Regions from separate parts of the Homo sapiens genome. Here all the other regions are reported to be linked to region 1. The links are microRNA targets in miRTarBase. Many come from high-throughput screens and were not tested one by one. Region 1 holds a microRNA gene; each other region holds the end of a gene's coding sequence.

Region 1 (7,834 bases):
AAGGGTCCCATGTTCTTCCTACTGTTGTCTTTTGCTCTGCTAGAGGGCAGAGCACTCTCTACGTCTGCTTCACTGCTCTGCCTTAAGTCCTGTCTGCTTTAAGGATCAGCTCAATGCCTGTCCATAGTGACTCATACTCCAGTTTGCACCCTGCATTTAGAACAGAGCCCCTTCTCACTTTACCCACCCAACTAGAGACATACTCTTTAAGGGTGGTATGTTTTGTAAGGTCAGGGAATATGTCTTGTCTTAGGCACTGCACTTGGTGGTTAGGTGTGGGATGTGATGCTCTACTTCAATCTCCTGGACAATGGCACCAAGAGGCAAGGGAGAAGGAAGTTCATGATGGGTGGAGGTTGGATAAAGGATAAGATAGAGCTTGGTCTTCTGTTGTAAAGAAGACCAGAGGTTGTAATAATCACGTCGCCTTCAATCACCCATTCACTCTATCACCATGGCCCTATGGGCAGGGCTGTTCTCCCTTCTTCTGTTTTCATTCCCCAGGAAACCTCTTTTGGGCCTTGCTTTCCCCTCTAAAGCCAAGGTCATCAGTGAAGTTTGTTTTAACCTCATTTCATCTGTGAAAGGGGTTGGATGGGTAAAGTGAGAAAAAGAAGGCAGATGACAACATTCCATGTGATGTGTTCTGGAGCCCTGCCCCTTCAAGGAACTTCCAGAATGTCTAGCTCGGTAACAGAATATGTGCTTTATAAATGTGTATTGTTTGATAACTGATTAACATTTGCCAAGCCACATAAAAGCAAGTGAAATGAATAACAACTCACTTACCTATTTTGGGGACAACTTTTACCATTCAGGACATAGAAATAGCCTTTCTAGTGGAAAGCCCATGTGACCAGAACTTATTGACCTATGGTAGTGTATAAATTAAAGTTCCTGATTGGGCCGTCTTTAATATTTTCCAGGACAGAGATTAGAGGGAGGTGCTCTGGGCTGCTGATACCTTAGTGATATCTACCCATGAAGGAGGAGAGAGTGAAATCCTTAGATATTTAGTATATCTCTGAATATGTTAAATGTATATTCAGAGCTCTCTGAACTTCTCAGTGTAGTCTGCAATGGTTAGGTAGTTTACTATTTTCAAGAAGTAAAATTATTAGATTTTTTTTAAAAACTGCTTAAAGACTAACATCAGTTATCTGGAAACATACATGGGGTACCGTCTTTTCCAGTGATACTTTAAAAATGACTATTTACCAATAATATCAAGTTTTGTTGAGACTATGGAGTTCCTGGAACTTACTTTGCTGGTGGGAGTGTATATTTATACAGCACTTTAAAGAGAATTTTCATGATATCTATTATGCACACCCCATGAACCCATAATTCTACACCTGGATATACCCAATAGATTTGAACTCCATCTAAAAACAAAAACAAAAGCATGTACAAGAATGTTCATATCAGCTTTATTCATAACAGCCTCAAACTGGAAACAACCAAAATGTTGTTTCCAACAACAGTAGAATGGATAAATACATTGTATATCAACGCCACAGAATGTTATACAGAAAAGATAAAGAGCGCACTATTGGCACTCTAATAGTATAGAAGCATCTTAGAAGATTGCGAAAGGAAGCCAGACATAAGAGAATACATATTGTATTCTCCCACTTATATGACCAAACAAACCTAATGTGTGGGACAGAGGTCAGAATAATAGCTATTCTTGACTGGAAGGGGGCATGAGGGAGCCTTCTGGGTAGCTGTAAATGTTCTAAATCTTGGTCTGGTGATTATATTAGTGTATAACATATGCAGAAATTCACCCAGCTGTACCCTTATGATTTGTATACTTTGTGCAAGTTATGCTTTAATGAAAAAGCAAAGAAAAGGAAGAGAGATTGCTGAAGTGTGATGCTGAGTAATTTGCCACAGACCCCAGTGTCTTCTATATGTCTGAAGGTTAACAGATAATATTCTTAAGGTTCTTGCCCCTGAAACTTCTTGTGAATTTTAGCATATTTTTCCTGCTTCCAACTTGCTCTGGAAAGAACTGGAGTCTGTGACTCAGGAGTCCTCTGCTATAGTCTCTCAGCCCCAGTTACCAACTGTGTTTACTTACAGGTCAGTTCTTCAAGGAGTATATGAAATAGACCTTCCAGTCACTCCTCTACCTTTGACCCATGGGGTCTGGTGAACATAAAGTGAGGTATAAGCTATCAAGGAGTTTTTGAAAAACATTAAAAGGGCCACCCAAATACTAAGAAGTAAGATTGTACTTGAACTTGATGAAATTGATGGCAGCTACTGATTAGAATCACATAAGGTGCTGTTGACAAAGACAATGCTGTGACTTTAAAGAATTGGGCAGTGATTTATGAATCATCATGGTACTTGGCTCAGGGCTCTCAGTGGCAGCTGTGACATCAGGGTGTAGGAACACATGAGGTGACTTGTGTGTTGGGAAATTGTGGTGATTACAGAAGCAGCCACTGCCGGGAGGTCAGCATCACATGCTTAGAATGATGGTTCTTTTCCAGGTGAAGCCCTTGGACTACTGTGGCCAAGTGAACAGTGCCCTGTTTAGACAACCCAGGCCCATTTCTGGCTTTTCCACCAAATAATTATGTGACACAAGGCAATCTGTTCGCTTCCCTGGACCTTAGTTCCTCCTCTGTAAAATGGGGGAAATGATGTCATAAGTCCCTCTGAGCTCTAACTTCCTCCATGTCTTCCCCACATAGCCAGTTCTCACTTTTTTTCCGTATGTGTATTATATGGTCAGTTTTAAATCTGGAACAGTCTTCTTTTCATGTGGCTGTTTTTTACAAGTAGATCTTTAAGAAGACAACTCAGCTGCCAAGAATCATGTTGTCTCCTAACAAACAATATCCATTATTCTGGAATATTGATTATCCATCATTTCAACAACCCAGTATCTCTTTCCATCATTAGTGCTGATGACTGGGTGCTGCCTGAATTACACAACCACTTTCCTATCCCTCCAGCCTCCTCTACCCTGTTGGAGCCCCAGGTGGACATGTCTTGATGAGCAAAGCTGTGCATTAGTAATGCTTAGTTTGGGGCCACATTTTCCTAAGGTTTGTGAGGGAAGCTCAATCATCACTTCAAGTGCCCAGAGCCTAGAACCCGAGCCGGTGAGAACACTGATGGGAGGAGAAGAAACTTAGTGAGAGGGAGCCTCCATCACTGGGAAGTGAGCACTGCAGCACCGCACAACACATACTCCTGGACTTCTTTCCTGGCCTGAGCTTTTCAAGGCTGAATGAATGTGCAAAGCCAGGAAGAAAATACCTTACTCTCCTCTGGTCAGCCTGGGCAGAGATCTTCTTTTACACACGGCAGGACTTGGGGAAGGAAGAGGAGGATGATGAGGCCAGGAGAAGGTGACTTTGTTGTGTCTGGGAAGGAACCAGGGCCTTGTAACTCAGAGAATTGGGGAAAAGCTTTGTGGCACCTTCATTTTTCTGGCTCCTTCATGGCTGTTTTGGCAGGGATTTTTGCCCCGTCTCACATTCCAAGTTCTTTCATGAGAGCTTTGTGGGTCAGAGGCAGGGAACTAGACCAGACCTTAACCTCTGAAGACACAAATTCTCCCCTGGCAGCCCCTGTCTCTTTGGGAGTTGTTCTGGTTCCTCCTGCTGGGGCATTTACACTGTTTTCTCTGAAGTCAAATCCATCTTCCTCTCTGTCCTCTGGAATTTGGTTTCTGAGGCACTTAGTAGGTGATAGCATGACTGACTGCCTCACTGACCACTTCCAGATGAGGGTTACTCTCCTCACAGCACGGCCTTGAGGCAGCTCATGCCAGGGATGCTGCCTGTGTTCCAACTGTGGATCTGCATTCTGGGAACAGCCAATTGATCTGATGGTGCGGGGTTACTTTTTATTTTTTAAATTTAAAAATTAAAAAAAATATATCCTTAGTGGTGATTAAAACTTCAGAACTGTTTTTGAATACTAATTTGGTTTTTGGAAACAGCCCAACTCCATTCGGGAAAATCTGGGGAAGAGGGAATCAAATCTGGGCAAGCTGGGTGACAGTATTTTAGTTTAAAAAACAAAACAACAACCTTCCTCTCTCCCCCACCTCAAAAAAACACAACACAAGGTTTGTCTATTAAGTAATGAAACAGTTTGCTTGTTTTTAAATTTAGAACGACAGTCGAGGCTGTTTTCAGAAGTTCAAAAATGTTTAGTGTCTGCTAGAATAAGCACAGAGCCCCGGAGGTAGCTAACAAGGACAGCCCTCATTTCTGTCTTCAATTCAGGAGGCCACAGGTCAGGATCTGTGGCATTGTGGAGGGCCCACCCAGGGCACTGCCTGTGATTGCAGACCCACTCCTGTGCCTTATGGGGAGGGAGGCGCTAGAGGAATCTGGGGCTATTGCCAAGTCCCCTATCGTTCACATGTTCCTGGAGAAGGAGTTTGGATACTGACAAATCCTGCATCAGGGAGGGCTACCTGAGTCCAGAGATCTCATCCTGAGCCTGTCTGCTTGCCTGGAACCACAGGCAAAAAGAGTTTCAGGGCAGCCGGAATAGGACAACATGTTCCTAGTATAACTAAAATGGCCTTTATCAAGTTGCTTTAAAGAGGTGTTCTTTGACTGCTGAAAGAAATCATAGATGACACAAACAAATGGAAACACATCCCATGCTCATGGATGGGTAGAATCAATATTGTGAAAATGACCATACTGCCAAAAGCAAGCTACAAATTCAATGCAATCCCCATCAAAATACCACCATCGTTCCTCACACAGTTAGAAAAATCAATTCTAAAATTCATTTGGAACCAAAAAGAGAGCCCATGGAGCCAAAGCAAGACTAAGCAAAAAGATTAAATCTGGAGGTATCACACTACCTGATTTCAAACTATACTATAAGGCTATAGTCACCAAAACAGCGTGATACTGGCATAAAAATAGGCACATAGACCAATGGAACAGAATAGAGAACCCAGAAATAAACCCAAATACTTACAACCAACTGATCTTTGACAAAGCAAACAAAAACATAAAGTAGGGAAAGGACACCCTTTTCAACAAATGGTGCTGGTATAATTGACTACCCACATGTAGAAGAATGAAACTGGATCCTCATCTCTCACCTTATACAAAAATCAACTCAAGGTGGATTAAAGACTTAAGACCTGAAACTATAAAAATTCTAGAAGACAGCATTTGAAAAACCCTTCTAGACATTGGCTTAGGCAAGGATTTCATAGCCGAAAACCCAAAAGCAAATGCAATAAAAACAAAGATAAATATCTGGGACCTAATTAAACTAAAGAGCTTTTGCATGGCAAAAGGAACAGTCAGCAGAGTAAACAGACAACCCACTGAGTGGGAGAAAATCTTCACAATTTATACATTTGACAAAGGACTAATATCCAGAATCTACAACGGACTCAGACAAATCAGTAAGAAAAAAACAAACAATTACATCAAAAAGTGGGTTAAGGACATGAATAGACGATTCTCAAAAGAAGATACACAAATGGCCGACAAACATATGAAAAAATGCTCAACATCACTAATGATCAGGGAAATGCAAATCAAAACCATAGTGCAATACCACCTTACTCCTGCAAGAATGGCCATAATAAGAAAACAAAAAAACAGTAGACATTGGCGTGGATGCGGTGATCAGGGAACACTTCTACACTGCTGGTGTGAATGTAAACTAGTACAGCCACTGTGGAAAATAGTGTGGAGATTCCTTAAGGAACTAAAAGTGGAACCACCATTTGATCCAGCAATGCCACTACTGGGTATCTACCCAGAGGAAAAGAAGTCATTACTTGAAAAAGATACTTGCACACGCATGGTTATAGCAGCACAGTTCACAATTGCAAAATTGTGGAACCAACCCAAATGCCCATCAATCAATGAGTGGATAAAGAAAATGTGGTATATACATATGATGGAATACTACTCAGCCCTAAAAAGGAATGAATTAACAGCATTTGCAATGACCTGGATGAGATTGGAGACTATTATTCTAAGTGAAGTAACTCAGGAGTGGAAAACCAAGCATCGTGTGTTCTCACTGATATGTGGGAGCTAAGCTATGAGGACACAAAGGCATAAGAATGATACAGTGGACTTTGGAGGCTTGTGGGGAAGAGTGGGAGGGGGGCAAGGGATAAAAGATTATAGATATGGTGCAGGGTGTACTGCTTGGGTGATGGGTGCACCAGGATCTCACAAATCACCACTAAAGAACTTACACATGTAACCAAATACCACCTGTACCCCGATAACTTATGGAAAATAAAATTTAAAAAATAGGTGTTCTTTGAAAGGGTGTGGGGGTGTTAGAGGTCTGGGGTCTGCACTGTGAGCTGTCTTATAGGGAAAGTCTGGTTCCAAGGGACCCAGCCTGTTTTTAAGGACAGCGAATCAAGATGCTGGGATTATGGAGATGGCTGCTGAAGAGAACTCTTGCCCCAAACTATGAACAGTCATGAAGTTTTCTTTCTTGGTGGGGAAGGGTCCTTGATGAGGGACCAGTGTAGGGGACATTCTAAACACAGCAGCCCAGCTGCTCAACTCAGAGTCAACCAGGGGCCCATTCTGGAGAAAGAAGGGAAGTGATGAACACTGGGCATCTGCTATATACTGGGCATTTCCTTATATCATTTTATGTAATTCTCAATAGTCCTTCAAGGGACTGTTACATTCCCCATTCTACAGATGAGAAAATGGAGGCACAGATGGTGCAGCTGCTTGTCCTCATCTCCTTACTGCAGGATCCCTTCTCACTTGCCTGCATACCCTGTTACAGTCTTTGCACTCAGTATATTGCATTGTGATGACTTCCCCACACCTAGAAATTCTAATGAAATTGGTCTGGGATGGGGCCCAGACTGGTATTATTTTAAAAGCTCCCCAGCTTATTTTAATTGCAGCCAGGGCTAAGAACTGATAGTTTAGATTATGGGTTTTTCATTTTTTTTTTTATATCCCCAGGGCCTAAGTCAGTGGAACTCAAACTTGAGCACACATCAGAATAATCTGGAGGACTTGTTAAAACACAAGTTGTTTGCCCTACCTTCAGCGTTTCTGATTCAGCAGGTCTACAGTGGGCCCAAGAATTTATACTTCTCACAAGTTCCCAGGTGATGCTGATGCTGCTGGTCTGGGGACCTTGCTATGAGAGCCCCTGATCCTTTAGAACGAGAGGAGGCACTTGTTCATTACATGCTGACTGAATTTTACCAAATTGCCAAGGTCCCCCCCCCATTGATTGGAATCAGGATTTGAATACTGGCCTACCAGGTAGCAAATAGGCTGGCTCTAGGGGAGCCTGGGTGGTAGAGTGAGGTGGGCCTGCCTGTCTACTTAACCTCTGGGAGGAGAGTAGAGTTTGTTGGCCTTTAGGGTCTCCTCACAGGGAGAAACAATAACCAGTTTCTTGCCAGGAAACCTAGTGGCTGTTAAAGGCCCAGAAATTTTGGGTAGAGGTTTGAGGCAGCCAGAAGATCCTAGAATCCTAATCCAGGACACAGATTCCTAGTGCAGAGTGTGACCTGGGAAAAGATGGTCATGGATGTGCATGTACCAGAGTGTTTGTTACAAAGCTGGTGACACTGCTCTTTAAAGTTACTTCTTGTTTTCGCACTACAGGAAATTATGGAGGCACTAGTGATGGAAACAGGGCGGAGTGATGCCAGAGGTGGGGAGCGAGGCCCTGAGCAGACCCGGATGATTAGGGAACAGGGTTGATGGGGCAGAGCAGCTGTGAGAGTTTGGGCACCTGGAAAGAATGTTTGAGGCCACAGCAGGAATGGTGTGTTTGGGAGAGGAGGAAGAGGCTATGCTGATGAATATAGCAGAGGACA
Region 2 (7,834 bases), not on the chromosome of region 1:
ACACGGTGAAACCCCGTCTCTACTAAAAATACAAAAAAAAAAAAAAATTAGCCAGGGGTAGTGGCGGACGCCTGAAGTCCCAGCTACTCGGGAGGCTGAGGCAGGAGAATGGCATGAACCCGGGGGGTGGAGCTTGCAGTGAGCGGAGATCATGCCACTGTACTCCAGCCTGGGCAACACAGCGAGACTCCGTCTCAAAAAAAAAAAAAAAAAAAAAAAAAAGAATTGATTCCAGGCCAGGCGCAGTGGCTCAACCCTGTAACCCCAGCACTTTGGGAGGCTGAGGCGGGCAGACCACTTGAGGTCAGGAGTTCCTGACCAGCCTGGCCAACATGGTGAAACCCCGCCTCTACTAAAAATACAAAAATTAGCGAGGCGTGGTGGCGCAAGACTGTAGTCTACTCAGGAGGCTGAGATAGGAGAATTGCTTGAACCTGGGAGGCGGAGGTTGCAGTGAGCCGAGAGATCACACCACTGCTATCCAGCCTGGGCGACAGAACGAGACTCCATCTCAAAAAAACCAAACAGACAAACAAACAAAAAAAGAATTGATTCCACTGATTTAGACAAAAGGAATCTCAAACCTGTACAACTTACAAAACACCACTGTGGACTGTCAGCCACCATGACAGCTGAACACAACCGTCATTTTAATACTACAATTTAGTCCAAGAGCTACGTGGAGCCCTTTTATCATTACTGGTCTAACTCAATCTTTGAAATCCTCTTTACAATCTTTAGCAAATTTTGTTGATTTCTTGCATTACAGTGTGATGTTAGTCCTTATAAAACTAATTCATAACCATGATTTCCTTTTTAAGTAACTGATCTTTCTTTCTTCCGTATTTTCCTTCAGGTGTGAAGTGGGTTATACTGGTGTCCGATGTGAACACTTCTTTTTAACCGTCCACCAACCTTTAAGCAAAGAATATGTGGCTTTGACCGTGATTCTTATTATTTTGTTTCTTATCACAGTCGTCGGTTCCACATATTATTTCTGCAGATGGTAAGTCAGTGTGGTTTTATACTCTGCTTTTACAAATTACTTTTACATAATGCAGACCTATAAACTGGGTAAAAATATGGATAAAGTATTAGAGAGATAAGATCAAACCTGTACAAATGATATTTACAAGAGTTGAGAAACTATTAAGTATTATGCCCAACACCTGAGTGATGGGATCAGCTGTACCCCTAATCTCAGCATCATACAATATATCCTGTTAAGAAACCTGCATGTGTACCCCCGAATCTGAAATAACTTGAAATTATTTTTTAAAAATATGTTTTTGCTGCAGAACATCTGGATTGAACTTTATTATCAGCTCTGATACTTATTACCTATGTGACCTTACATAAGTCAAATTGAGAGTATCAATTCCCTTCTTTATCAAATATGGACAGAAATTATTATCTTACATTAGTTATAGGGTGGTTGCTTTTAGTATGTAATATGATATTTCATGTGAAAGTAAATCATAGGATAGGTGCTACTGTTATAGTTAACCACCTGAATTTAATTCCTCAAGTCACATTTTTTATTTTATAAAAAACAACCTTGTAAATTAATAACCTTAGAAGCTTGGGTTATCTTACAGTTTAAGGCAGACTGGTGGAACTATTTCTAGACAATTATAAAAAATGGTTGTTAAAAAATAGTTTGTGTCAGTCCCCCAAAACAGTCGTACCTCATCCTCATGTGCATTATTGTCACAAGCTGAAAACAGAAAAATAGAAAGTGAACATTGAAAGTATAGTTTGGCATTTTTTTAAGGGTTAGGAGCAAAGGATGGGAACAGTGTGAATTAATTAATAACAGTTCCCTTTAAAATGTCTCCATGAAACATATTTTGAAACAGTTACAAATTACTCAAGGTGAATTTACGTTTTTATTTTTCTGTGAAAGTAGTGCACTTCCAATTTTGAAGGTCTGAAAGTGTGCTACTTTCATAATATTAAATTTATTTTGTCCACATTTGATTCTAAGTATCCATCAAATAATAATGCCTTCCTAATAAGTTGCCATGACAGAACTAAATATTATTAAAACTGAAATATGCCTGCAAATCTTTGACCACAATCCTTTCCTTTATAGATGGGGCACTGAGGTTTAGAGAGGTTCATTCAAATATCCCAGCTCATATAGTTGACAAATGCCAGAGTGAAGAACAAATTCTTTCTAATTCATATTCTTACAGTAAACATAGACATGATGTGGTTTCCTCAAAGCTACATGTCTTATTTCCAAAATAGGGACAAAATAAACTCAAAAATATTAGGAAAATAGCTTAATGAATAAATGAAAGAAGATTCTAAATTATGATAAATCTATGAATCCTAGCTATGAGACCTTGGACCTTGGGCACATTATATACAACCCATTTGTATTTCACTTTCTTCATCTGTAAGATGAGGATGGTAACAGCAAATGTGAGAGTAAAATAAATAATGCATGTATAGCACTTAGAAAATTGTAGGTCACCAAATTAGTGCCTGATAAATATTATTTTTATTTTGATTAGTGATAGCATTATATCAATGTGATGGAAAGAGTGTATTAATGTAGCATGATTTGTAAATATTCATTCCTTAGAAGGGAGGAAGGAAAAAGAAAGAGAGACAGAAAAAGAAAACCTAAAATTCAGACTTAAATGTGGCCACACGCCTCTTGGAATTTCACAATATTCATGATCACGTTAAAGACTTTGAGAAACTCTTTAAGTGTATTTTATCATTTCATTCCAAAATTGTTTGACTACAGCACATCACCTCTTCATCCCTCTTTTTTTTTTTTTTTTTAACATTGTCCAACCTAAATCTGTTCAACTTTGTCATTTTGGAAACACTATGCTAATGTGCCTTTGGAGTCCATATATAACACACTTGTTCCTTTGCTATTAACTGCAGTGCTAACAGTTTCGTTTGTGAATATTTCCAGGTACAGAAATCGAAAAAGTAAAGAACCAAAGAAGGAATATGAGAGAGTTACCTCAGGGGATCCAGAGTTGCCGCAAGTCTGAATGGCGCCATCAAACTTATGGGCAGGGATAACAGTGTGCCTGGTTAATATTAATATTCCCATTTTATTAATAATATTTATGTTGGGTCAAGTGTTAGGTCAATAACACTGTATTTTAATGTACTTGAAAAATGTTTTTATTTTTGTTTTATTTTTGACAGACTATTTGCTAATGTATAATGTGCAGAAAATATTTAATATCAAAAGAAAATTGATATTTTTATACAAGTAATTTCCTGAGCTAAATGCTTCATTGAAAGCTTCAAAGTTTATATGCCTGGTGCACAGTGCTTAGAAGTAAGCAATTCCCAGGTCATAGCTCAAGAATTGTTAGCAAATGACAGATTTCTGTAAGCCTATATATATAGTCAAATCGATTTAGTAAGTATGTTTTTTATGTTCCTCAAATCAGTGATAATTGGTTTGACTGTACCATGGTTTGATATGTAGTTGGCACCATGGTATCATATATTAAAACAATAATGCAATTAGAATTTGGGAGAAGCAAATATAGGTCCTGTGTTAAACACTACACATTTGAAACAAGCTAACCCTGGGGAGTCTATGGTCTCTTCACTCAGGTCTCAGCTATAATTCTGTTATATGAGGGGCAGTGGACAGTTCCCTATGCCAACTCACGACTCCTACAGGTACTAGTCACTCATCTACCAGATTCTGCCTATGTAAAATGAATTGAAAAACAATTTTCTGTAATCTTTTATTTAAGTAGTGGGCATTTCATAGCTTCACAATGTTCCTTTTTTGTATATTACAACATTTATGTGAGGTAATTATTGCTCAACAGACAATTAGAAAAAAGTCCACACTTGAAGCCTAAATTTGTGCTTTTTAAGAATATTTTTAGACTATTTCTTTTTATAGGGGCTTTGCTGAATTCTAACATTAAATCACAGCCCAAAATTTGATGGACTAATTATTATTTTAAAATATATGAAGACAATAATTCTACATGTTGTCTTAAGATGGAAATACAGTTATTTCATCTTTTATTCAAGGAAGTTTTAACTTTAATACAGCTCAGTAAATGGCTTCTTCTAGAATGTAAAGTTATGTATTTAAAGTTGTATCTTGACACAGGAAATGGGAAAAAACTTAAAAATTAATATGGTGTATTTTTCCAAATGAAAAATCTCAATTGAAAGCTTTTAAAATGTAGAAACTTAAACACACCTTCCTGTGGAGGCTGAGATGAAAACTAGGGCTCATTTTCCTGACATTTGTTTATTTTTTGGAAGAGACAAAGATTTCTTCTGCACTCTGAGCCCATAGGTCTCAGAGAGTTAATAGGAGTATTTTTGGGCTATTGCATAAGGAGCCACTGCTGCCACCACTTTTGGATTTTATGGGAGGCTCCTTCATCGAATGCTAAACCTTTGAGTAGAGTCTCCCTGGATCACATACCAGGTCAGGGAGGATCTGTTCTTCCTCTACGTTTATCCTGGCATGTGCTAGGGTAAACGAAGGCATAATAAGCCATGGCTGACCTCTGGAGCACCAGGTGCCAGGACTTGTCTCCATGTGTATCCATGCATTATATACCCTGGTGCAATCACACGACTGTCATCTAAAGTCCTGGCCCTGGCCCTTACTATTAGGAAAATAAACAGACAAAAACAAGTAAATATATATGGTCATATACATATTGTATATATATTCATATACAAACATGTATGTATACATGACCTTAATGGATCATAGAATTGCAGTCATTTGGTGCTCTGCTAACCATTTATATAAAACTTAAAAACAAGAGAAAAGAAAAATCAATTAGATCTAAACAGTTATTTCTGTTTCCTATTTAATACAGCTGAAGTCAAAATATGTAAGAACACATTTTAAATACTCTACTTACAGTTGGCCCTCTGTGGTTAGTTCCACATCTGTGGATTCAACCAACCAAGGACGGAAAATGCTTAAAAAATAATACAACAACAACAAAAAATACATTATAACAACTATTTACTTTTTTTTTTTTCTTTTTGAGATGGAGTCTCGCTCTGTTGCCCAGGTTGGAGTGCAGTGGCACGATCTCGGCTCACTGCAACCTCACCTCCCGGGTTCAAGAGATCCTCCTGCCTCAGCCTCCTGAGCAGCTGGGACTACAGGCGCATGCCACCATGCCCAGCTAATTTTTGTATTTTTAGTAGAGGCGGGGTTTCACCATGTTGGCCAGGATGGTCTCAATCTCCTAACCTTGAGATCCACCCTCCACAGCCTCCCAAACTGCTGGGATTACAGGTGTGAGCCACCGCACGTAGCATTTACATTAGGTATTACAAGTAATGTAAAGATGATTTAAGTATACAGGAGGATGTGAATAGGTTATATGCAAGCACTATGCCCTTTTATATAAGTGACTTGAACATCTGTGCCCGATTTTAGTATGTGCAGGGGGGCGATCTGGGAATCAGTCCCCTGTGGATACCAAGGTACAACTGTATTTATTAACGCTTACTAGATGTGAGGAGAGTCTGAATATTTTCAGTGATCTTGGCTGTTTCAAAAAAATCTATTGACTTTTCAATAAATCAGCTGCAATCCATTTATTTCATTTACAAAAGATTTATTGTAAGCATCTCAATCTTGGTTTGTCAGTTTATCTTAAGCATGTCAATTCATAAAAACAAGTCATTTTTGTATTTTTCATCTTTAAGAATGCTTAAAAAAGCTAATCCCTAAAATAGTTAGATCTTTGTAAATGCATATTAAATAATAAAGTATGACCCACATTACTTTTTATGGGTGAAAATAAGACAAAAATAATAGTTTTAGTGAGGATGGTGCTGAGTAAACATAAAAACTGATTTGCTCTCAGCTGATGTGTCCTGTACACAGTGGGAAGATTTTAGTTCACACTTAGTCTAACTCCCCCATTTTACAGATTTCTCACTATATATATTTCTAGAAGGGGCTATGCATATTCAATGTATTGAGAACCAAAGCAACCACAAATGCATAAATGCATAATTTATGGTCTTCAACCAAGGCCACATAATAACCCAGTTAACTTACTCTTTAACCAGGAATATTAAGTTCTATAACTAGTACTCAAGGTTTAACCTTAAAATTAAGATTTCCTTAACCTTAACCTTAAAATTGATATTATATTAAACATACATAATACAATGTAACTCCACTGTTCTCCTGAATATTTTTTGCTCTAATCTCTCTGCCGAAAGTCAAAGTGATGGGAGAATTGGTATACTGGTATGACTACGTCTTAAGTCAGATTTTTATTTATGAGTCTTTGAGACTAAATTCAATCACCACCAGGTATCAAATCAACTTTTATGCAGCAAATATATGATTCTAGTGTCTGACTTTTGTTAAATTCAGTAATGCAGTTTTTAAAAACCTGTATCTGACCCACTTTGTAATTTTTGCTCCAATATCCATTCTGTAGACTTTTGAAAAAAAAGTTTTTAATTTGATGCCCAATATATTCTGACCGTTAAAAAATTCTTGTTCATATGGGAGAAGGGGGAGTAATGACTTGTACAAACAGTATTTCTGGTGTATATTTTAATGTTTTTAAAAAGAGTAATTTCATTTAAATATCTGTTATTCAAATTTGATGATGTTAAATGTAATATAATGTATTTTCTTTTTATTTTGCACTCTGTAATTGCACTTTTTAAGTTTGAAGAGCCATTTTGGTAAACGGTTTTTATTAAAGATGCTATGGAACATAAAGTTGTATTGCATGCAATTTGAAGTAACTTATTTGACTATGAATGTTATCGGATTACTGAATTGTATCAATTTGTTTGTGTTCAATATCAGCTTTGATAATTGTGTACCTTAAGATATTGAAGGAGAAAATAGATAATTTACAAGATATTATTAATTTTTATTTATTTTTCTTGGGAATTGAAAAAAATTGAAATAAATAAAAATGCATTGAACATCTTGCATTCAAAATCTTCACTGACAATGCAGCCTCATTCTTTTTTTTTCTTTTGCAATTTTTTCCCCACAATACATTAAAGGGTTTAAAAGCAGTGACAGGGATATAATGTGTGTAGACATAATGACTCAATGGTGTTAATTTGGGAAAACATTCTATAAATGTATCACGTTTTATAGCCAGCATAGTGAAGAATTTCTTGTAATAGAAGGAGCCACATTAGTTATAAAATTCTAGGTGTTGGTATTTAAAAATCCTAGGAGTTAGGATTGATTGATTGATTGATTGATTGATTGATTTTGAGATGGAGTCTCACTCTATTGCCCAGGCAGGAATGCAGCGGCACGATCTCGGCTCACCACAACCTCCGCCTCCTGGGTTCAAGCGATTCTCCTGCCTCAGCCTCCCGGGTAGCTAGGACTACAGTCACGTGCCACCATGCCCGGCTAATTTTTGTATTTTTAGTAGAGACAGGGTTTCACCATGTTGGCCAGACTGGTCTCAAACTCATGACCTTGTGATCTTCCCGCCTCCGCCTCCCAAAGTGCTGGGATTACAGGCATGAGCCACCATGCCCAGCCTGGGGTTAGTATTTTTTAAAATAATATTTTAAAGAGTATTTTAAAAGAGTATTTCTAAAAAGAATAGATATCCTATTGGGAAGTAGCATTTGAAAAGATTCATCAGCCAGAATGGTGCCTTATGATTCTCTCAGCCTCTGCAAAGAGGCTTGGCTCCCCTGAGCCTTTAGAGCAGACAAGCTTGATTCTTCCCACCCTTCATCACAGTGATGGATGGCTTCCTTGGTATACTTATTCAGCAGCCTACAGAGTACTTGCTCCATTCCTTAGCTCCTTGGATCCTTCATTAGCTTGCAGCTGGGGAAG
Region 3 (7,834 bases), not on the chromosome of region 1:
ACCACCACGCCCAGCTAATTTTTGTATTTTTAGTAGAGATGGGGTTTCACCATATTGGCCAGGCTGGGCTCAAACTCCTGACCTCGTGATCCACCCACCTCAGTCTCCCGAAGTGCTGGGATTACAGGCGTGAGCTGCCACGCCCAGCCTGGTTCATTCTTCTTTAACATTGTCCTGTGCTGCCTGAGGTTCGTGAAAAATCCTAACATAACGAACACCAAGATGTGGGGCTCTCTGGTTCCCCCTCCACGACAGAACCAGCGGTGGACACGTATTCAGCCTGGAATCTTCTTCCTTCAGGCCTCACCCCCAGGACAGGGAACCCCTCATTCCTGCGCCTGGTCCTGGACCAGCTGCCGAGCCCCTGCTCCCTGCTGCCCCCCAATGGACCTCGGGTAACAAGACACCACGTGTGTGGGGCGTGTTCTCTAGATCCGTTCTCACGATCCTGAAACCATTATTGAGCCTTACAGCTGCTTTAAGCGCCCGGGGCTTCATCAGAGCCTTTGAAAACCCCAGGTGAAACTAGTTACTCACTGGGAAGCCTCGGTGTGTGGCTGCCTTCTCCCTGATACTGCATGCCCGGGCAGCTCTCTGAAGGGCAGCCACAGCCACACGGTTACACAGGGACACACAAACACACGCACATGCACACCTACACACACGCAGGCACTCCCACTCAGCCCCCAGAGATCCATCCACACTCGAAGGAGGCTCAGACAAGAAGTTAAGCTAGCAGAAACAACATCATTGGCTGGGTTAGCTCCTCTCTACAATGGCTTTAGAAACCTGGAATTTTTTTTTAAAGTACAGGCAGGCTGGGCGAGGTGGCTCATACCTGTAATTCCAGCATTTTAGGAGGCTGAAGTGGGGGAGGATCGCTTGAGCCCAGGAGTTCAAGACCAGCATGGGCAATGTAGCAAGACCTCAGGGCATCTCTACAAAAAATAAAAAAATTAGCCGGGCGTGGCAGCGTGCGCCTGTAGTCCCAGCTAGTCAGGAGGCTGAGGTGGGAGGACGGCTTGAGCCCAGGAACTCAAGGCTGTAGTGAGCCATTATTGCACCACTACACTCCAGACAGAGCAAGACCCTGTCTCAAAACAAGTACAGGCACACCCCATTTTATTGCAGTTCACTTTATTGCACGTCAAGATATTGCCTTTTTTTTTTTTTAAACAAATTGAAGGTTCGGGGTAACTCCAGAGTCAAGCAAGTCTATTGGCAACATTTTCCCACGAGCATGTGCCCACTTTGTATCTGTGTGTCACACTTTCGCAATTCTTGCAATATTTCAAACTTCTTCCTTATTATATCTGTTGTGAAGCTGGTTCTCCCAGACGTTCCCTGCAGGCTGTTTATGCAGCGCCCATCCGAGATGAACCCACAGGACACTCAGGATCCCAGACTGCAGGAGTCGTCTGGGATCACAGGCGGGGCAGAGCAATTTGTCAATGTTTATGAGGAGTCCTCCTTGGCAGCCCAGTCTTTATCCTCACTCACGTGGAAATGAGATTCGACCTCTCCTAATCACCTGGTGCCCGAGGAGCAGGTAGGCGCCTGTCCCAAGCCTGAGTTTCCTGGGAAATCTACATTTCAGCACAGATGGGTTCCCAGCAGCTTAGTGCTCTGGCTGTCCTTAGGTCACTGAATCATTTCACCCGCTAGTTTTTTGTTTGTTTGTTTTTGAGATGGAGTCTTGCTCTGTCACCCAGGCTGGAGTGCAGTGGCGCGATCTCGGCTCACTGCAACCTCCACCTCCTGGGTTCAACTGATTATCCCTCCTCAGCCTCCCAAGTAGCTGGGGTTACAGGCACCCGCCGTCATGCCCAGCTAATTTCCATATTTTTGTAGAGACGGGGTTTCACCATGTTGGTCAGGCTGGTCTTGAACTCCTGACCTCAGGTGATCCGCCCACCTTGGTCTCCCGAAGTGCTGGCATTACAGACGTGAGCCACTGCGCCCGGCCTTGCCCACTGGTTTTATGAGAAAGAGACATGGGAGCCTTTTCCCCAGCTGGGGCAATCATCAGACAGTCACATGGAGTCACAGAACCATCTTGCAACAGCATCCCAAGACCTGGCCATTGGGCAGGATGTGGGACTTGTGAAAGGTCATAAATGACCCTTTGAATCAGTCTCCCTCTGCACAGGAAAAGCCCACCGCCCTGCGTTCACCTTTGCCCATCAGATAGGGCTTGGGGGGCACCTGAGGAGGAGGTGCCTGCCACTGCCTGTGGAGGAGGATGTTGGCGTTCCTATTTCACAAGCCCGGCTTGGAGAGCCAGCGGAGACCTTCTGCGCAGCTAGCTCTTGCACACACCCCTGCGGAGAAACTCTGCCTTCTTGCCTGGGGCCCAGAACCTTACCCACCCAGGCTTGCCCCCTCCCTTCCAGGGCCCACTGACCTCCTGACTCAGGCTCCCCCGAGTGCCTGACCCTGTGAGTCACTGGCCCATCTACAATCCTTCTCCCCGTGACTGCTTGAGTTGTAGCTTGATTGGAGCCAGGTCAATGCAAGTCACAGAACTGCGAACTGAGATGGACTCTCAGAAGCAAGAGGTGGCAAGCATGGCGGAGAGGAAGCGAGGGTCCTCCTGGCTGGTTAGATCTTACAGAGTTTAAGCTGTACTGAGAGTTTTTATGAGGACAAGGGGCCAGTCCTGTGCCTGCCTGATGTGGAGTCCTAGGCGGGCTTGGGCCGCAGGTTACCTGCTCCCGGAGGCTCACAAAGGCAGTGCCAACAGGCGCTCATTCTCAGCAATGGGTGAAAGTAAGAGGAACCTGCCCTCCCTCCTCTCCACACCTCCCCAGTATTTGTCCTCATGGAGTAAATATCCAACAGTGATCCCAGGGCATGGGAGTGGGAGTTAAGGCAAATGCCAGACTGTCCAAGGCTCATTACAGGGTAGTCCTCTCATCCTCTGCTCACTAGTCCACTATATTCAGTGAGCACCCACTGTGCACCCTGTGCCTTGGGGACGTGGAGGCACGCTCAGCCCCAGCCTCGCCCTCCGGGAGCTTACAGTCTAACCCTCTGGGCACAGGGAGGTGGGAAGATGGCACGGCCTTGCTGGGAGCCTCACCCTGTTGGCTGAACAATGATTTTTTCAATAATGCCTACAGCTTCCTTCATATCCTGCCACCCAAACCAGTGCCAAGGTCATCATGGGCTTGTGTGGCACAGTCAGATTTAGTGACCATCCCCACTCCCACATTGGTTCTGTCTTCTTGCCCCCGGTGCTCTGGTCCCTAGCACAGGCTGCTGATTTGGGGACTCGGGGGAGAATCCTCCACCTTCTGCAAATGCTTAGCCATGAAATGACGGGTGTTTGCCTGACTATGATTTCATGAATCCCCCATGAAATGATGGGTGTTTGCCTGATTATGGGCCAACAGTGCCCCCCACTCCTCGTGGGCACTCCTGGGATCAGCAGCCCCTTCCTAGCCTTCACAGGGACTCTAGGCCTCCATGGAAAAGAAAGAAATAAAAAATTTTTTTTGAGACAGAGTCTTGCTGTGTCACCCAGGCTGGAGAGCAATGGCTCAATCTTGGCTCACTGCAACTTCAGCCTCCGAGGTTCAAGTGATTCTCTTGCCTCAGCCTCCCGAGTAGCTGGCACATGCCACCACACCCGGCTAATTTTTGTATTTTTAGTAGAGACGGGGTTTCACCATATTGGCTAAGCTGGTCTCGAACTCCTGACCTCAGGTGATCCACCCGCCTTGGCCTCCCAAAGTGCTGGGATTACAGGCGTGAGCCACCGCGCCCGCCCAGAAAGAAAAATCTTAACAAGTTGCTTCCAGTAACCAGTCTCAATGAGTAGCAGGGAGTAGTTTGCAAGAAAAAAAAACAAGTGAAGATGTTTCCCATTCTTTAACCTGCTCCATCCCTCAAATTCCTGCTGCTCCATGGCAGGGGCCCTGCTCACCCCACATTGGCACAGACTCTGCTGGAGTCAGATCCTCCAAAGCCACAAGCTTCCTTGAGGCCACGGGGCCGCCTCATTCTTGTTCTGCCCCTTCCTCACACTGAAAGACTGCATAGCCTGGGGTGCAATGCCCAGGTGTGAAATTGATGCTCGGGAAAACAAATCCTTCCCAAAGTCACTTAAGGAATCCCCCAGCCCCACCGCACAGACCCCTGGATGTATACTGCCCCTATAATTCTGCTCTAGGCAGAAAAGCCTAGGAGTGGAGGTGACAGCTCCCAGCATATGCACCCTTTTGCTCTGCTCTGCTGCCCTGTAGAGCCCTGGAAGTGACCAGAGCCCTTAGGCTACTGCTGCTGCATGCCCAGAGGGTCCCAAGCAGAGCTGGGCAGGAGGTAGGCCCAGGCAGGGCTGGGAGAGCAGTGACCAGGCAGGGTGCACGGCTGCACTTTGCCCAGGTCCTGGCTCTGGCTCTGGTCTGGTGCCAGTGCTGGGGTGGGTGTGTCGGCTGCCCACGCAGCTGCGGGGTCCAGTTCCAGAACTATCTCCACCAGCTGGGATGGGGGGCTTCTTCTTCACCCTGCTGCCTCTTGTCCTTTCTTCTCCAGCCAAGTTGGGGGTGAAGCAGGGACGCTCCTTTTATTCCCTGAGCCGAGCCCCAGCCCCAGGGCTTTCAGTCTGCCACGCCAGTCACAAACAGCCGGCTTCCGGCCTGGGTGTGGGTACTGGGCTGGCCCCTAATGATGGGAACAGCAGCCGCCACCAAGAGCTTCAACCTGTCCAGTGCCCCAAGGTCCCAAGCAGTCGGCAGGGTCTGTGGATCGGCCGAGGGGCTACCACGGCCGCCAGAGGCCAGGGCCGCAGGGAGGCGAGGGCGGCGAGGGCACCGGAGCGGATGCGGGCTCTGGGGCAGACGCGGGCGCTGGGGCGGGGGCAGACGGGCCACTGGAATCCCCAGCGCGCCCGCCGTCCAGGGTGGCGCTGGCCGCTCTCCGCCACAGGTGCTCCAGCAGGCGCGCGCTCACGGCGGGCTCCAGGACACGGCAGGCGGGCAGCACGCGGGCCAGGCGCGCCACACAGGCGCTGTAGCCCTCGCGGTAGCTGTCGCAAGGCACTGCGGGCGGAGAGCCGCGTGAGGCGCGGGGTAGGGTGCCGGGTGCGGGGTGCAGAGCGCGCGGCAGGGCAGGGAGGGCTCACTCACGGGGCGCTGCCGTGGGCCATGAGGACGCAGGCAGCTCCTGCAGGAAGCGCACGGTCATTTCCAGGACGTCTGCCTTCTCTAGCTTCGAGCAGTTGGAGTTCTGCGCCCGGCCACGAGGAAGAGCGACAGAGAACCACCAAGACAGAACTTTGGCCGGCTACCGTGCGCACCCTCGCTCTAGTCGGGAGCTGGGTGTGGGGCGCGCCGTGGCCTGCTGGGGGTCCGCTCCGACGCGCCCACCCCACCCAGGCTCCGCCTCGGGCGCCGCGCGGAACCCCCTGGTGGGTTCCTCCCGCAGGAGCACCCCGTCCCCCTGCCCCCGCTCCGCGCCCCAGGACCCTCTGCCCTCCGCCCGGGCGCGCTCACCTCCCGGCCCAGCAGCGGCAGGATGAGCCCCTTAAGCTGGCTCAGGCTCTGGTTGATGCGCGCGCGCCGGCGCTTCTCCAGCAGCGGCTTCAGGCTCTGCGGACGGGCGGCGCGGTGGTTAGACGGGTCCCCGGAGTCCCCAGCCCCGCCCCCAGTCCCCGGTACCCACCTTGCGCAGCTCCGCCGCGTCCCCTGCCCGGCGAGGCAGCCCCATGCTCCGCGGGGAAGCGGTGGCAGCTGCGAGCCCCACGCAAAGGGAAACCGAGGTCCGAAATGAGGTCCCGGGCGCGGCCCGGGCTGGTGCCAGACGAGTGCGCGCCCCGCCCGCGGCCGAGCTTTAAGGGAGCGGCTCGCCCGCCCCGCCCCGCCCCGCGGAGTCCGGCCGCCCGCTGGTCCCACCTCCTGCCTTTGTTCCTGCGCAGGGTGGAGCCGGGAGGGGAGACCGCGACGCCCCCGGGGATCCCGCTCCCCGCCTTTGCGTCCTGTCTACCGCGGGGTGGCGGCCCCCAGTTTTCCCCGAGCACCTGCGGGAGAGTGGTAAAGGCGCCATCGGGGGCCTTCGCTGCGTGACCCCGAGGGCAGGAGGGCCAGGTGGGGCCAGGCCTTGCCTGACTGGAGCTACGGTCCCTCCTCTCCAATGCTGCCCTTCATTCATTCCCCAGGCTCGGGTTCAGCGTCTTCTCTGAGCCCCGCCCTGGGCCGCAGCAGGGGACCCAGCGGTTACGGGAGCTCCCATGAGGGACAGCAGCGGGAGGGACTTGCACCCCCAGCTGCTTTATCGGGTGAAGGGCTGAGCTGGACGGGAAATCCGAGTTCCGGAGAAAGGTCGTGACTTGCTCCAGTCCTCGACGCTGGGAACAGGCCGAGCCTGGACAAGGGCCCCAGTCGCTGGACGCCCGGCTCTAAGGAGCCCGTAGAACCCTTCGGCGGCTTGCCTAGTTAAGAGTCTTTTGGTTACCCCACTCCAGGCTTTGGGTGGGGAAACGGAATCCTAGAGAAGCAGAGGCAGCCCTGGAGCCCTCGGAGCTCGTTTTCATTCCCACCGGCTAGGGGTCCGGGTTCTCGCCCGCAAGACAGTCAGGGCTCATGTGACGCGCGGGCAGGACAGTTTTGGGTGCGGGCCCCAGTGGCCCGCCCAGGACCGCCTTCGCGCCGCGTGGCCGTTGCTGCGGCAAACTGGCTGGCGTCCCCCGCCCATCTGCTCCGGGCTCCCCTCCCCCGACCGGCTGGCGGGGCAACGGCCACGCCCGCGAACCACACTGCGAACTGCCGGGCAGAGAGATGACTGGAGGGATCCACAGAGCCAGCCAGGAGGAGTTCCCCTATGGGGCGGGGCCAAGGAGGGCTCTGTCCAGGGTGTTGGATGAACCCCCTGTCCCCCGAACCCCACTTCCGAGCTCCACCCCTGCCGCTAGCCCCACGTCTCCCTCCTTCAGGGTTCTCGCCGCAGGGTGGAAGAAGGCCAGCGAACACACTGAGGGGCCCGGAGAAGCCTGGGCCAGGGGAGCCCAGGCCACCCATACCTATCTGTGGCATGGGAAGGAATGTAGGCCACCTTTCATGGACACTTACTGTGTGCCAAGCTCAGGGCTTAACGCTTTAAGGCTCGCTAACCTGCATTAACCCTCATAAAAGACCTAACAAGTAAGAATAAATCCTTCAACAGATTTGGCCCAGCAGGGCTTGGAGGAACCTGAGACCTTGTTCTCCGTGGTTGAGGCCAGTTTGACTCCATAGGCCTCCCCTAAGACAATTAATTGTTCTTTAAGAGCTCAAAAAACTCTGTGGATCTTTTCCCTCTCATCCCCAGGCCAAGCGACTTAGCTTGGCTGACTCAGGTCTGCACCCACAAGTCCGCCTGCAGCATCTGCATCTTGGGGAGGGACTGACCCTAGCTCCTGGGAGAAAAAGGCTGAAGGAGGAGGCTCCCCTTAGAACATCCCCCTCCAGGTTTGCGGACCACCATTTGAAGACTGAATGGCAGGGGAGCAAACACCATTTCCATTGCCAGTTACCCCCAGTTAAAAATATTTCTTCCTCTACTCTCCCATTGGGTAAAGGACTTTAACCAAGTAACCCACAGTTCTCTTCAACTCAAGGATTTTCAGGTTTTGCTGGTTACTTGGAAGGAGTGGTCTGGAATCAGAGGAACGTTAAAGACAGCTAGGTGGGCAAATGTCGGGTGCAGGCTTTAGGGGAACTGGGACCACCTAGGATACAGTAAGGATACACTCCACCCCTGGTCCCTATTCTTGGGAAGTGCCCTGGCCCTTGGGTTGAGGAGAAACCTGGGGTGGGCTGGGGTGAGCCCAGCAGAGGGGTGAGAGAAGCCCTCCTGG
Region 4 (7,834 bases), not on the chromosome of region 1:
CTCCTGAGAAAGGATAAACCTTTGGGTTCTTATCTGAAAATGCCTTAGTTTATCCTAATTGATTAATAGTTTAGCTGGGTGTGGCATTCTAAGTTGGAAATCATTTTCTTGGATAATTTTGAAGGAACTGTCATCTTCTAGCTTTTAGTGCTGCTGTGGCAAAGACGAATGCCAATTTTATTCCTGATGTCAGCCTAGTGTGGGGATTTGTATCTTCATATTTTGAGTACTTGTTGGGCCTTTTTAGTCTTAATAAGCAAATTTCTTCAGTTCTCAAAATTTAAAAAATACCATTTCTTGGCCGGGCGCAGTGGCTCATGCCTGTAATCCCAGCACTTTGGGATGCCAGGGTGGGCGGATCACCTGAGGTCAGGAGTTCAAAACCAGCCTGACCAACAAGGTAAAACCCCTGTCTCTACTAAAAATACAAAAATTAGCCGGGTGTGGTGGCGTGCACCTATAATCCCAGCTCGTCAGGAGGCTGAGGCAGGAGAATCACTTGAACCCGGGAGGCGGAGGTTGCAGTGAGCCGACATTGCGCCACTGTACTCCAGCCTGGGGGAACAGAGCGAAACTCTGTCTCAAAAACAAAACAAAAAACCATTTCTTACATCATTTTCACCCTCTGTATTCTTCCTTTTCTCTTTCTGTAGTCAAGATATTGGACCTGATTAATTCCTTCTCTTATTCATTCACTTATTTTTATTTTATTTTCTGAGACAGGGCCTTGCTCTGTTGCTTAGGCTGGAGTGCAGTGGCCCAGTGACAGTTCACAGAAGCCTTGACTTCCCAGGCTCAAGTGATCCTCCCACCTCAGCCTCCCAAGTAGCTGGGACCACAGGTGCACGCCACCATGCTCGGCTAATTTTTTTTTGAGACAGGTTTCACTCTGTCACCCAGGTTGGAGTGCAGCAGTGCGATCTCTGCTCACTGCAGCCTCTGCCTCCCAGGCTCAAGTGATCCTCCCCCTTCAGCCTCCTGAGTAGCTGAAGGCACATACCAGCATGCCCGGCTAATTTTTTGTATTTTTGGTAGAGACAGGGTTTCACCTTGTTGCCCAGGCTTGTCTCAAACTCCTAAGCTCAGGCAATCCTCCCACCTCAGCCTCCAAAAGTGCTATAGGATTACAGGCATGCGCCACCACATCCTGGTGTTTTTTTGTTTTTGTTTTTTTTAATTGGATAGATTTTCAGCCAGGCCTCCTGCCTTAGCCACACCTTCATTCCATTTCCCCTGGCAAGGGCAACCAGTTCCTTGGCCTTTGGGAATGAGATTTATATATGTTAGGTTGTTTTATCCGCTGCCCAGTTTAGGATTTTCGCTTTTGGGGTGTGCTGAGTCAGTTAGCACTCATTTACCTCTCCCCAGCTTCCAAAATGCTATTGAAGGCCTTCTCATTCTCTTTTTCCTTGTGGGTTTACACCTTTAAAGTTTAAACAAAAACTTTAGTGTTTTTTTTTTTTTTCCTTTGAGATGAAGTCTCACTCTGTCGCCCAGGCTGGGAGTGCAGTGGTGTGATCTCAGCTCACTGCAACCTCCGCCTCCTCAGCCTCCCGAGTACCTGGGATTACAAGCATGCACCACCATGCCTGGCTAATTTTTTGTATTTTTAGTAGAGACAGGGTTTCATCATGTTGGTCAGGCTCGTCTTGAACTCCTGACCTCAGGTGATCTGCCCGTCTCAGCCTCCCAAAGTGCTGGGATTACAGGCATGAGCCTCCATGCCGGGCTTCGTGTCATTTTAGTGGGGTTTCAGGAAAAAGCACGGGGCAAATGCGTGTGTGCAATCTGCTACCATCTATAACTGGAAATCTTCCACACTAATATTGATTTGCCCTTTTCACTTATTTAGGGTTCCTAAGACTTTGGAATTTCTTGGTATTCATTCCTCATCCTTAGGGAATGCAGAATTCTAACAAACTTCTGTGGGATAGATATGCCATCACTCACACACTGGTCTTTACTAATTTAGACCCTTAGTGTTATACATGGCTCATATGAAGAGTAAAGGGGAGCCTGTCGGTAGCTAGGCCCACATGTGTGCATGCCTCCTGGGCTGATGGCTGAATTGCCATTTGCTTCTTATATGACAAGCTCTTAGTGTATGTGCCCATTATCAGAGATATCACGGGCTTCAAAGGTCCAAGCTTGGCCATCCATTCCACTCTTTTCATCATACCCTTTGTGTTCTGACTTTGAAGCTTTTCTAGGTCTTAACATTTTCTTTCTTTGTTTTTCTGTAGGATCATGGATTTTCCTGGTCACTTTGAACAAATCTTCCAGCAGCTGAACTACCAGAGACTTCATGGCCAGCTCTGTGATTGTGTCATTGTAGTGGGGAATAGACACTTTAAAGCCCACCGCTCCGTGCTGGCAGCATGCAGCACGCATTTCCGAGCCCTGTTCTCAGTGGCAGAAGGAGATCAGACCATGAACATGATCCAGCTGGATAGCGAGGTGGTGACAGCAGAGGCCTTTGCTGCACTGATTGACATGATGTATACCTCCACCCTCATGCTGGGGGAGAGCAATGTAATGGATGTCTTATTGGCAGCCTCTCACCTGCATTTGAACTCTGTTGTTAAGGCATGTAAACATTACTTAACGACAAGGACGCTGCCCATGTCTCCCCCCAGTGAGCGCGTTCAGGAGCAGAGCGCCCGCATGCAGCGCTCCTTTATGCTACAGCAGCTGGGACTAAGCATCGTGAGCTCAGCCCTCAATTCCAGCCAGAATGGCGAGGAGCAGCCAGCCCCCATGAGCTCTTCCATGCGCAGTAACCTGGATCAGCGCACGCCCTTCCCCATGAGACGCCTTCATAAGCGCAAGCAGTCTGCAGAGGAGCGGGCCAGGCAGCGCCTCCGACCCTCCATAGATGAGTCTGCCATTTCAGATGTTACACCGGAGAATGGGCCTTCAGGGGTTCATTCTCGGGAGGAGTTCTTTTCACCAGATTCTCTGAAAATTGTGGATAATCCTAAAGCTGATGGAATGACTGATAACCAGGAAGATAGTGCGATCATGTTTGATCAGTCTTTTGGCACTCAAGAAGATGCCCAGGTGCCCAGCCAGTCTGATAACAGTGCTGGCAACATGGCACAGTTGTCCATGGCCTCTCGTGCAACTCAGGTTGAGACTAGTTTTGATCAGGAAGCTGCACCTGAGAAAAGTAGTTTTCAGTGTGAAAACCCTGAGGTTGGCCTTGGTGAGAAGGAGCACATGAGAGTGGTGGTTAAATCTGAGCCCCTGAGCTCACCTGAGCCTCAGGATGAAGTGAGCGATGTGACCTCACAAGCAGAAGGCAGCGAGTCTGTGGAAGTGGAAGGAGTTGTGGTCAGTGCCGAGAAGATAGACCTCAGCCCTGAAAGCAGTGATCGGAGTTTTTCAGATCCCCAGTCTAGCACAGACAGGGTAGGTGATATCCATATTTTGGAAGTCACAAATAACCTAGAGCATAAGTCCACTTTTAGTATTTCGAATTTTCTTAACAAGAGCAGAGGAAATAACTTTACTGCAAATCAGAACAATGATGATAATATTCCAAACACCACTAGTGACTGCAGGCTGGAGAGTGAGGCCCCCTATTTGTTGAGTCCAGAGGCTGGGCCTGCAGGTGGGCCCTCCTCTGCCCCTGGCTCCCATGTAGAGAACCCATTTAGTGAACCTGCAGACTCCCACTTCGTCAGGCCTATGCAGGAGGTGATGGGCCTGCCGTGTGTGCAGACTTCAGGCTACCAAGGAGGAGAACAGTTTGGGATGGACTTTTCCAGGTCTGGTTTGGGCCTCCACTCCTCCTTCTCCAGGGTAATGATAGGTTCCCCAAGGGGAGGAGCCAGTAACTTTCCTTACTACCGCCGCATAGCTCCCAAAATGCCAGTTGTAACTTCCGTCAGGAGCTCACAGATCCCAGAAAACTCTACCAGTTCTCAGCTAATGATGAATGGAGCTACGTCCTCATTTGAAAATGGCCATCCTTCCCAGCCTGGCCCTCCACAGTTGACCAGGGCATCTGCAGATGTTCTGTCAAAGTGCAAGAAGGCCTTATCAGAGCACAATGTTTTGGTTGTAGAGGGAGCTCGCAAGTATGCCTGCAAAATCTGCTGCAAAACTTTTCTGACTTTGACAGATTGCAAGAAGCACATCCGTGTTCACACAGGTGAAAAGCCTTACGCCTGCCTGAAGTGTGGCAAGAGGTTTAGTCAGTCCAGCCACCTGTATAAGCACTCAAAGACTACCTGCCTGCGCTGGCAGAGCAGCAATCTTCCCAGCACTTTGCTCTAGCTGTTTGTCCTTACAAGACAACGCTGAGGCCAGTTGTCAGACTGAATTTCTTTTGGTAAGCAGTTAATGCCTTTGGGTTCGAGGCTTCCAGCTGCCCAGTGGCTCTTAAACAGTTTAGCAACTAATAACCGGAGAACTAACATGTAGTATTTGTGCTGCTGCATTTCTGAGTGAAGTGCACGTCTTGGGAAAGGGATGCAATCCCTGAAACCAGGTGCTTCCTTGGGGTTGAGTAATGCAGTCAGAAAGTAGTTTGTAATTGATATTAAAAGTGGCACATTTAAAAATTTAAAAATTGAAGTGCAAAAAAAATTTTTTAGCAATTTTTGTAAAACTGTGTAGCATTTAAATTTCCTATACCTTCTGATGGGAGTATTATATCCCTGTATAGTGATGCAAAATGCACTTATGTGTAACCAGTGGTGATTTGGTGCCTGTCTTAAAGGAAGGCCTTTGAGGACACACCTGTCTGCCACAAATGCTTTAAAGTGTATCATGAGCTAGTCCTAGGCCTCAAAGTACTGTATTTTTTATTTTTACCTGATTTGCAGTCATAAACACTGCACTTTGGTGCTGACACTGGGTCCAGAGTGAGCATTCTCTTGGACTATTAGATGTATATACTTTTGAATACATCACTGTTGGATAGATGTTTTAACAGTTTTTTCTGGTTTAAAAACCAAATTGTAAATGGAGTGTGTACTTGTAGAGAGTGACAAGGTATTGTTTCCCTATGTGCTGTTTGAGCAGTATTTTAACCAACTTGTATTACAGATGTTACAGTTCCATGTTAGGAAGTCAGAAAAGACTTGTGTTTGTCTTTGTTCTGCTGATGTGGAGTCATGTTTTGTGGGGTCTTCCATGGCACATTTACCTGTTGCTCCGTCCAGATGTTGAGGGCCAGTCTAGGCTGACACATCCTACCCGAGGACAAGCCTGTTCTCCATTTCTTCACTCTCCCCTCCCCATATAGCAACTCTCCCAGGTTTAGATTACCGTTTTCGACGACAGATTAACCAAAAATGCCCCACACAGGTTTTATTACTGTTATATACTATACTTTTAACAGTACAGACCCTAAATTTTATTATTTGTTGCTCCCCCAATCTGATACCAAATGTTTAAAGTTGTTTGAAATCCAAACATGGTAGTGTTCATGGGTAAATATTTTCTAGGCTATGTAAGAGTTAGCAGCCCATAGCATAGAAGTAATCAAGTAGCATCTGAGACTGTTGGAGGCACTAGGGCCTCTCTGGGCCCTACAGCCTCACTTCCCCAGCCTCACCTTGCTGTCCTCTGACACTGCCATCAGGGCTGTTAGTGGCACCTGTATGAGGCCAAGTGTGCGTCCAGGGGAACAGCACAGGTTAATGCGTCTCCCTAGAACTCATGAAGTCAGTTTAATTCATGCATGAACATGAGTTCATTTTATGTTTTATATAGCTTTCTTAGACATACCAAACCATCATTCATAAATCAGATAAATTATTCAGTTTTTGTGTTTAGAAAGCTAAGTATGTGTAGCTGGAAACAAAAATGAGCGTGTTTTCTCTCCTGTTAATCTAGAGTGTGCAGTTACACATGTGTGGATAATTTCATGTTCCAGGGGCGCTTGGCATCTCCCATGGACTGATTCCCAGGAAGAAAAGCCCAAAGGGAAACCCACGATTCCTTTCGAGTAGATGTGGGAAAGAGCCCATTGGAGGATATGAGGTCCTGTGAAATTCAGTTGTGTGTGTGGCTCCTTGTTAGCAGTCATGTTGACATGGTGTTAGGAGGCTCCCCATCCACCCTTTACATGATGTAGGGACCAGTGTCTTGTGAGATTAACCTTGGGACACAGTGGGTTAGCCTGGAGAAAATGAGAGGCCCTGCCTGGACCCAGGGAGAGGAGCCAGTGACACAGGCAGAGCGGTGCAGCCCTCCTTCCCTTCCATTTGGAGGAGGTGGTGCCAGGAGCCTGCCCGCTTACCTCTGCTGAAGCATAAGTGGACTTTGCTTTTGGGGCTTATCTCTGATACATGCTGGAGCCCTGCCTCTCCACTGCTAGATGGAACCTGGAATCTCTCATCTACCTCTTAGTCTGTCAGTTTCTACGTGTGAGAAGCAAGCTTGTGGGCCAGTGTCCTTGTACATGCTGTAGCACTTAAAAAATAATTCCAGGGTTCCCTGGAAAACCAGTCCCAGGGTTCCTATGATCTGTAGTTTCTACCTGGATTATAACTGGTTTTGGGTACCTGAATTTTGATTGGTTAGCCTTAATTATAGTCTGGCGTGATCATGTAGAATCTTTTCTGGTGAACAGATCATAAAGTTCTATCAAGGAGTTCTATCAAGGCATCCATGTCAGTGGTGCTATGCTGGTTACAACTTGAGATTTTTGAAATAAAAAATTTGTCATATTCATGCCTCTAAATATGTGTTCTTTTTCTTTACGTTATTAAGGTTGAAACCAAAGAGGGTAATATCTCTTTGCCAGCCCTTCTTTGACTAGTACTTTGTTTTAAACCAAACCTTCTATTAACAGTTAATTGGTCGTTCCTCTCAAATCATTCCCTTCTGCCTTCCCCCGCCTTTTCTGTCTTTGAGCTACGCACATGCATGAGATTTTGCTTTTCAGTCTACCCAGTTGCTCTCTGAGGGCCTGCGTAATCTTGTGCTGCTCCCTGGACCTGCCTCCCAAGTTGGAAACTCCATCTGCCAGTTTGGCTTGGCTGCTGGGAAGAGCTGGAAGCTGATTCCTTGAGCACAGAGCAAGGCATTGGCAATGGCAGTGCTGTGGCCTGACCTTGGAGAGAAGTGGGTAAGGTGGTGATTAAAAAAAAAAAAAATCCACCTGGGGGCAGGGAGGGGCTGGGGGGACAGAATGGGCAAAGGGAACAATATGTGTAGGTGCTGAAACTAATTTTAAAATTAAACCCACCTACCTCTAATCGTTCTGACCAAAATAAGAGTTACGTCCTTACCTAGTTCTCATTTCTTCCAGTTAACTCCTTTTCTGGAAGTGCTCCTTAATTTTCCTGATGGTCTAGGTATCAAGATTCAAGTGCCATGGTCACAACTGGGTTCTGTTTGTCCCGTCCTTGGTGAGGGACAAGTGAAGGAATCTGGGCAGAGAAGATGAGGGGTAAGGTGGTTTGGACACGTTCCAATAAGGAAAATGCCCAGGGCTGAGGGCTGGGGTGGGAAGCAGAGCCAGGCAGATCATTGGATGCTGTGACTTTGAAACATGCTCTTTGTATTTTTAAAGTTTTTTTTGAAACGGTGTCTTGCTACATTGCCCAGGTTAAGTGTAGTGGTGATTTAAAGAGTGATCATAGCACACTGCAGGAAACGGTATCTTGCTACATTGCCCAGGTTAAGTGTAGTGGCGATTTAAAAAGAGTGGTTATAGCACACTGCAGCCTTGAACTGGCCTCAAAGGATCCTTCCCGCTCAGCCTCCTGAGTTGCTGGGACTATAGGGGTGCGTCACCATGCCCAGCCATATCCACTTGTTAGCTTCCCCATTTACAGGCCAAGACGGTCTCTCAGAGAATTATTTAATAATAGAA

Evidence for each region. Region 1 holds the annotated microRNA hsa-miR-5002-3p (UGACUGCCUCACUGACCACUU, at 3,724-3,744, shown strand). A microRNA usually pairs through its seed, bases 2 to 8, with sites in the 3' UTR of a target mRNA and lowers its output. Matches are read on the target gene's strand: a 7mer-m8 pairs with bases 2 to 8, a 7mer-A1 pairs with bases 2 to 7 and ends in A, and an 8mer does both.
Region 2: miRTarBase lists EREG as a target of hsa-miR-5002-3p. Seed matches in the 3' UTR shown: 7mer-A1 at 4,743-4,749.
Region 3: the mRNA of HES2 is a reported target of hsa-miR-5002-3p. Seed matches in the 3' UTR shown: 7mer-A1 at 2,474-2,480.
Region 4: the mRNA of ZBTB5 is a reported target of hsa-miR-5002-3p. Seed matches in the 3' UTR shown: 7mer-A1 at 4,519-4,525, 7mer-A1 at 4,829-4,835 and 7mer-A1 at 6,033-6,039.

The regions. Positions count from the first base shown.
Region 1 is chr3:124,129,265-124,137,098 of GRCh38, forward strand. MIR5002 (microRNA 5002) reads left to right here and starts at 3,665; the gene lies at 3,665-3,761. The region is part of intron 1 of KALRN (kalirin RhoGEF kinase); the gene reads left to right.
Region 2 is chr4:74,381,789-74,389,622 of GRCh38, forward strand. EREG (epiregulin) reads left to right here. Exons shown (of 5, transcript NM_001432.3): 4 at 857-1,006; 5 at 2,939-6,961. The coding sequence ends at 3,020. Among named protein-coding and RNA genes, the nearest start is that of EREG, 21 kb to the left of the region's middle.
Region 3 is chr1:6,414,112-6,421,945 of GRCh38, forward strand. HES2 (hes family bHLH transcription factor 2) reads right to left here and starts at 5,808. Exons shown (of 4, transcript NM_019089.5): 1 at 5,665-5,808; 2 at 5,496-5,591; 3 at 5,130-5,229; 4 at 1,121-5,042. The coding sequence starts at 5,709. The coding sequence ends at 4,762. RefSeq lists enhancers at 1-483, 484-983, 508-747.
Region 4 is chr9:37,436,965-37,444,798 of GRCh38, reverse strand. It overlaps ZBTB5 (zinc finger and BTB domain containing 5), which reads left to right. Exons shown (of 2, transcript NM_014872.3): 2 at 2,244-6,697. The coding sequence starts at 2,248. The coding sequence ends at 4,281. It overlaps GRHPR (glyoxylate and hydroxypyruvate reductase), which reads right to left. Exons shown (of 9, transcript NM_012203.2): 9 at 7,809-7,834. Among named protein-coding and RNA genes, the nearest start is that of GRHPR, 18 kb to the right of the region's middle.